Linked DNA regions of Homo sapiens. The protein of the gene in region 1 purifies or fractionates together with the protein of each later gene. This does not show direct contact. Each region holds a gene or a part of one and is shown on either strand. Other genes may lie near its edges.

Region 1 (3,134 bases):
GGGGTCCTTTCATCTGGCTCCGTTTCTGGTGCTTCTGGAAGTCTCTGCTCAGCACAGGGAAGAACTAACACGACTAACCTAGGCCTACCCTGAATGCTTCTTGCTAACCAGGCCGAGAGGCCACACACTTGCCCCCCCATCCCCACAAACCAGGTAATGCCAGTTTGCCAGCAGCTATTTGCCTATAGAGATGAGTCTGTCCTGGTCATAACTGTGTGCTCAAGGTGTCCAGGCTTTTGGGGGTGGGCCTATCTGGGTGCATTATGGATGGTTTGGTGGATTGAGGTGTGGGGAGGAGGGTCCTAGGCTAGAGGGGGTATCCCTAGTTAGACTTTGGGAAGCCACCTTCAACGTTTTCTGGAACAAGGCAGGTACAAATAAAAAAATAAAACTTTGGAAAGCACTTTCTAGAACTGAAGAAGGTAAAACCTCCTCACCCCCATCCTCCTGACACCTCCCTCCCACACTCCATAAACTGGACAGACTCACAGGCCCACAGATTCCTCTTCTGGAGTTTATTTGGGAGCAGCTGGGATGATGGGGACCCCACATCCATAGGGCTGGGAGGTCAGGGCAAGGGCAAGGGGAAGAGGAAAGAAGGGTGCCTGGAGAGGAGCAGAACTGGGGTTGCCGGCCAGGCCAGCAGAGCGACACCCTAGACCGGGCCGTAGAAGCGCCGATAGGCCTCCTGAAAGCCGATGTGGTCAGCCAACTCGTCACAGTCCGGATTGAGCTCACACACCTCCCTCCTGGGCTCCAGGGGATCCGGGTAGGGGACTGGGGCTCTGAGACACCCGACGTGGTGGCATCAGCCCCCGTGCAAAATGCCCATCCCTCCTCTCCCTACACATGGGGCTCCAGGGTGCCCACCAGGGCAGGCTGCCTGTACCCCCACCACAACCCAGAGAGGCCACTCCCTGCTGCAGCTCCCCCACAGACCATCCCGGAGAGGCAGGGCCTTGGCCCAGCTCTGCCTTTTCTCTCACCCCAGCCATTGATACAGGTAGCGCCTGGGTCTCTTCACTACCTCGCTGCCCTCCTGCTTGGACACAAAGGCTGTGGAGCAGAGGGGCAGGCATCAGGTGGCTCTGGGTTTGGGAGGATCAGGTGGGGAGCAGGCTGGCCTTCCTGATGGCCAGACAGGAGGTGGCAGGAGTGGGGGAATGAGACTGAGGGACCAGGGTGAGAGGGGAGGGTCCAGGAACCCATCAGGTCCATCCTCATACCTGCACCTTTGCTGGACTCTGCACCGCTGGGCTTCGCACCTGCAAAGGAAAGGGAGCCTGGTTCACCCCAGCTCATCCCCAGGGCCCTCATCCTCCTTCCCCTGCGTCTCGGGCAGCTTGCTCTTCCCTCCTCTCCCTCTGCAAGGGCAGAGCTGGGGCAAATGGATTGAGCCTGCAACAAGGTGGTTAGACTGCAAAGGGACTGCCAGCCAAAGGGGTGAGAAGAGGTGGGCCATGGTGCTTCCTCCTCTCAGCCCCCACTGCAATGCGGCCTGAGGGGAGGTGGGGGCACTCACCTGCCTGGCCAGCGATGCAAAGTGCGGCCAGGGCCAATAGGGCGAGGAGTGTGAGGGCTCTCATGGTGTCTCGGTGGCTGCGCTGGGCTGCTGCTCAGGACTCAGCTGGCCTGCCCCGCCAGCCTCCAGCACTGTTTATACCCTCTGGGCTGTGCCCAGCGATGAGGAGGGGCATGCCTGACCATGGTGCGGGCGGGTCTAGGGGGAATCTGCCAGGGCTATTTGGGGGTCATCCGCCCCAGCTCCGTAGGCCAAACCCCAAAGGATATTGTGGTTGGGAGCTGCGGCTGCTGGGCCAGGGGCCCCTGGGAGTGATGGAGGGTGAGCCACAATCAGACTGCCCGGCTCTTGACACTGCCTCTGGCCCCTCTCTCAGGGGACAGCCCCAGACCCCTCAGCTCCAACTCACTCTTCCTCAGAGACCCCCAGCCTCAGGTTGAGCACTGGCTGAGCTCTAGGGGAGTCTAAAGAGGAAGCGGGGATCAGAGACCTAAAATAGGTTCAAGCAGAGCTGGGCTCCAGCTGTCTCACAGCCTGTGATTTCTACTGTCAGCCCCGTGGGCAGGAGCCAAACCCAGGGAGGGGATGCCTCGCAATGCCCCCGTTCACCCGGTGAGTCACCAAAGGCAGCCTGCTGTGGGTGCAGCTCGACGGCTCAGGCCCTGCCCTGCGCATCCGGACAGGAGAAAGGGTCGGGCAGCACAAACGCCAAAAGCCAAAGCCAATGGAGGTGGGGCCGGGCAGGAGATGAGGTCAGCCGGTTGGTTTCTGGGACACGCCAGGTGGCTGTGACTGCCAGGTACACAGGCACAGGGAAGGGAGGCAGGCACTGAGGTGGGGACCCCCTTCCCTGTGTCCTTAGCAGGCAGGGAGGCAGGGCCTGTGAGGAGCACGAAGATGGAGTGTGCCTCTGCCCTCCTGGCCCCACGATTCTCCTCCTGACCCTGCAGCCTCCAGTGTTAAACACCCTGGGGAGGGACCTGCCCTCCCGTAGTGCTCCGATAAGTAATAGGAAGGCCTATCCTCTACGGTACAGAACATCCCAGCCTGAAAACCCCATCCCACACCTGAGAGCCTCCACTGCCTCAGGTCAGCCCAGAGAGGGAAGACATGTCCTGGGACCTTCCCCTGTCTAACCTGTCTCCTCACTCACCCACCCACCAACCAGGGCTTGAGACCATCTGCCCAACCTGACAAGTAAACAAAGCACCCGACGGGGCAGGCCTGACAGAAGCAGGGCATTTGGATGCTTGAATGCCACAGCTCCATGGTGACAAGGTGGGCAGAGGGAGACTGAGCCAAGTGCCGTTTATGGGAGGGGGGTGGGAAGTTGGGACCACCTGATGCTTGCCTGTGTCCCCAGTGTGCCTCCAGCAGACCTCACCAAGGCTCTCACTAGGGAAAAGTTCTGCCCCCATACACGCCCAACCCCTTTCCCCCTCTGGTGGATCCGGGAAGCACCCATCCTGCCTTTGGCTGCCCTGGCTGAAGAAGAGTGAAGTGGAAGAAGCAAGAGAAACAAAGTGCTCGCGGTTCTTTTTTTTTGAGACGGAGTCTCGCTCTGTCGCCCAGGCAGGAGTGCAATGGTGCGATCTCGGCTCACTGCAACCTC
Region 2 (4,019 bases), on another chromosome or scaffold:
CGTCCTGTCGGAAGAACAGTGCCGGGAGCTCCACAGCGTGGCCAGTGTGAGGATCCGGAGAAGGAGGGGAGCTCACTGCGCTGGCCTGCCAAGAAGCTGGAACTGCTTTGGTCCTGGTCTCATCTGGAGCCAGACAACAAGCCCTGAAATATTGCTTTCTTGAGGAGAAAGACATAAATTATTTTTGAGGAACTTTTATAGCCTTTGGGTTGGGATTATTTTAGTTTTCCCGGGTGGGATCTGGAATAGCTACTGGCATATTTCCTAGCCCAACAGCCATCTAGCAAGGTCCCTGCCTATCATATAAAGTTGCTGGAGAAATCCTTTTATTTTAATTAATTATTAGGCAATATATCAATAATTTACATTCTTTTTATTTCCATAAAAAGTGACAGTATTTGATAATAAAAATGTAGAATGAAGATTAAATAAAGATATCTCTTTTAATTAAAAGAATAGTTATACCAGCATCCTGGAATAAAATGGGGATGGTTCTTAGCATTGACTAGAGTTCTCAGCTTTCTGGCAGCCAAAGCAGAAAAAGACCTGATGAATTCATAGTTATCATTGATGACGTATCTTCTTGTATTTGCTTCCAGGGAATCATGCTTGTTGGTGATGGATACAGAGGAAAAACTTCACCCCATACACCCAATGAAAAGTTTGAAGGTGCAACTGTCCTGAAAGCACTCAAAGTAAAGTCTTAACTTCTTTTGGGTTTGAGTTCCTTAGTGTCAGCCTAAGGCTTCTGTAAATGGCAGATATAAGAAAGAAAAAAGTGGCCAGGCACAGTGGCTCACGCCTGTAATCCCAGCACTTTGGGAGGCTGAGGCAGGCAGATCACGAGGTCAGGAGATCGAGACCACCCTGGCTAACATGGTGAAACCCCGTCTCTACTAAAAATACAAAAAAATTAGCCAGGCATGGTAGTGGGTGCCTGTAGTCCCAGCTACTCGGGAGGCTGAGGCAGGAGAATGGCGTGAACCTGGGAGGCAGAGGTTGCGGTGAGCCGAGATCGCGCCACTGCACTCCAGCCTGGCCTGGGCGAGAGCGAGACTCCGTCTTAAAAAAAAAAAAAAAAAAAAAAAAAAAGAAAGAAAGAAAGAAAGAAAAAAGTTTTGAATATATACCTATCAGGACAGCTGAAAGAAGCAAGAGTGAAATGAAACCTTCATTGTAGTTAATCATTCCTCCGTTCAGCCATCAACTTATCAAACTTTACATTTCCTGACAAAAAATACATACAATCCCTCTTTGTAAAATCATGATCTAATAGTGAAAACATATTCAAACAAGTAATTATTCTCTACTGCAGGAAGGGTTGTTAGAGAGGATGGTAGAACATATTATAATAGAAGAGAAGAGGAACCAAGTAGCTTTTAGCTTTCCATCTGTTATTGGGAAGAGTTTATTCCAATGGCACAATGTCCTAACCGAAATCCACAAATATGTAGTAGCCTTCCCCATTAGTCAATACAGACATGACAATCCTATATTGGCTCAATGCAAGCTAGTGCCTGTTTTTCTTACGACCTCCAATGAACCCATTTGTTTCTCATGTTTTGTTTTTTTTTTTCAGTCTGGTTATGAAGGTCGAGTCCCACTGAAGAGCGCTCGTCTGTTTTATGACATCAGCGAAAAGGCTCGAAGGATTGTAGAATCTTATTTTATGCTGAACTCAACTCTGTATTTTTCCTATACACACATGGTCTGCCGAACAGCCCTGTCTGGTGAGATTGCAGTCTGAAATGGTTCCCTTTTACCCACAATACATTGGGAAATGAAACAAGGCAAAACAAAGCTCAACAGCATGGTAGATTAATATTTTAGACGAATTCTAGATTTCCAAAACAAAAGTAGCTTATGAACTCTTATTCTGCTTCTTTCTTTTTCTTCCTTTTGTTCTTCTGAAGTTCCAGAAAACCCTCGTTCTGAACATTTTCCCTTCCAAATCAATTTTCCCCAATTGCTGAAGTCTTGGGAAAAAAAAATGCTTTTCTGCTGTAGGTTTCCCATTTTGAGGAATCAGGAACATGGAAATCATAGTCACCATGATGTCTACCAGCATTAAGTGGAAGCATAGAAGATGAAGGGATGATTGAAAGAAATACTCTTAAAAAGACCGGGACCTTCTCGGTCCCTGCTCAGCATTATTTCTCCTCTATGTCTTATGCCCCTCTGAATGGGGCGGGGGGAATAATGATGTCATAGGAGTAGACTTTTACACTTGGGAAGTTTTAGCTGAATTAAATCTTGTTTTTTTAAAAAATTTTCATTTCCTTCCCATTGTTTTGCTGCCCTATGTGAAGTACAACCCATGAAACGCATGGAATTTGTTCATGTATGTTTATATCAGAAATAACTTTTATAGCTGAAGAGACAGGTGTGACATGCTCAAGGTTTCACATCCAGTTCATATCAGAACCAGACCAGAATCTCAACTACTTGTCCACTGTTCTTTTATCTGTTCTTTCCTGTTGTCTGCCTCTGCCCATTTGCAAAGATCATCAGGACTGGGAGAAGAGAGATTGTCAGTTACTTTGGTGGAAGTTGCTGCACTTCATTTCTCGTTCTTCCCTATTCCCTTTTCTGGCAGGTCAGCAGGATAGAAGAAATGACCTCAGTCATCCCATCCATGCTGACAACTGTTTGTTGGATCCAGAGGCCAACGAATGCTGGAAGGAGCCTCCTGCTTACACATTTCGAGACTATAGGTATAGCTAGAACCTGCTTCAAAACAAAGCTTTTACCTAACAGTTTTCAAGCAGTGAAAACTGGAAAGGTGCTCTGTTTTGCTTGACGTCGTGTTCATATCTCCAAGGCAGAAATTCTCAAATAATCTTCTGAAGTAGCTGCCATAACCAATAAGTGGCATTATCATCTCACTTTTATCTTAAAAATTGTGCACAGTTTGCATCCCATTTCACAAAATGTCCATTTTGTTTTAATATGAAAAGTAAATTTTATGTTCTTTTAAAAAAATTCCTGTTCTCCCTGGAACATATTCCTTGTGGTATATGTATTTCAGTCAGAATACAAGGGCATGGAGTCTTGGCCTACATAAGGACTTTATCACATCAATTATCTTTATTCATACCCAAGAAGAACTATGTCTGCATTTTATAAATAAGACACTAGAAACTCAGGAGAAAAGAATGTCCTTACCTATTGAGAGAGATTTCAGTGTGTAAGGAATCAGGAGTTATAGTCACCATGTGTTCATCCTTACTACACTGTACTCGATTCCAAAACATTTATTAAGCACCCGCTATCTGCAAGGCGTGGCTAGGCCACAAGGAACTCTTCAGCAAGTTAAAGAGAAAAACAACAACAAGAACAAAGCAAACAAACAAACAAAAATCCTTTAGAGTTATATAAGGGAAAAAGAGAGTTGTAATTAGGGTGGGCACGTTCAAAGGGCTAGATTAAATTAAAACTAGTTAGGTTTTCTGTGGAGGAAGTGAAATGTGAGACAAGCTTTGACATATGATTACAATTTTAGTAAAGGTGGAATAAGTAAACTCTTCAGAGGTATAACTCAAACTCTATCTGATCTTCTCTTTAAGAGTTTGGAGGACCAATTATATCAATGTCTAGTTCAAAGGAAACTTACTAATGGAGGCTGGACAGTACATCACCAGTCTTCAGTATTCTATGACCATGCTCTCATAAGCATATAATAATACAAATAGTTTTCTCTTCATTCTTATAGTGCTCTCCTATATATGAATGATGACTTTGAAGGAGGAGAATTCATATTCACAGAGATGGATGCTAAGACTGTGACTGTAAGTAAACCTATTCTTGAATACTTATTTAGTATGTTTTAGCTCAGTATTGCCATTTTTCTAAGTACTTACAGATGGTTAGATTTCAAATACTTCTGAGCTCAAGATTTCAAGAGGTTAAGAGAGTTTCAGTAAATGTATAGATCATAAACTGTTAGAAGTATCCATAAAAATCTAGTACGTTGTAAAGATGAGTAAATTAAAGAATTGAGATATTAATCATTTTATCAT

The links.
Region 2: the proteins of BGLAP (region 1) and P3H2 purify together in Homo sapiens (affinity purification with mass spectrometry; one large-scale study listed by BioGRID and IntAct). This does not show direct contact.

The regions. Positions count from the first base shown.
Region 1 is NC_000001.11:156,240,684-156,243,817, reverse strand, and holds BGLAP (osteocalcin preproprotein), read right to left. Parts: upstream 1,635-3,134; 5' UTR 1,587-1,634; coding exon 1,523-1,586; intron 1,266-1,522; coding exon 1,227-1,265; intron 1,057-1,226; coding exon 987-1,056; intron 786-986; coding exon 656-785; 3' UTR 501-655; downstream 1-500. Other genes in the region: PMF1-BGLAP protein, read right to left, coding at 735-785, 987-1,056, 1,227-1,265. UniProt on the Homo sapiens protein: Bone protein that constitutes 1-2% of the total bone protein, and which acts as a negative regulator of bone formation. Functions to limit bone formation without impairing bone resorption or mineralization. It binds strongly to apatite and calcium.
Region 2 is NC_000003.12:189,970,585-189,974,603, reverse strand, and holds part of P3H2 (prolyl 3-hydroxylase 2 isoform a precursor), read left to right. Parts: coding exon 1-46; intron 47-599; coding exon 600-695; intron 696-1,579; coding exon 1,580-1,730; intron 1,731-2,596; coding exon 2,597-2,714; intron 2,715-3,712; coding exon 3,713-3,788; intron 3,789-4,019. UniProt on the Homo sapiens protein: Prolyl 3-hydroxylase that catalyzes the post-translational formation of 3-hydroxyproline on collagens. Contributes to proline 3-hydroxylation of collagen COL4A1 and COL1A1 in tendons, the eye sclera and in the eye lens capsule.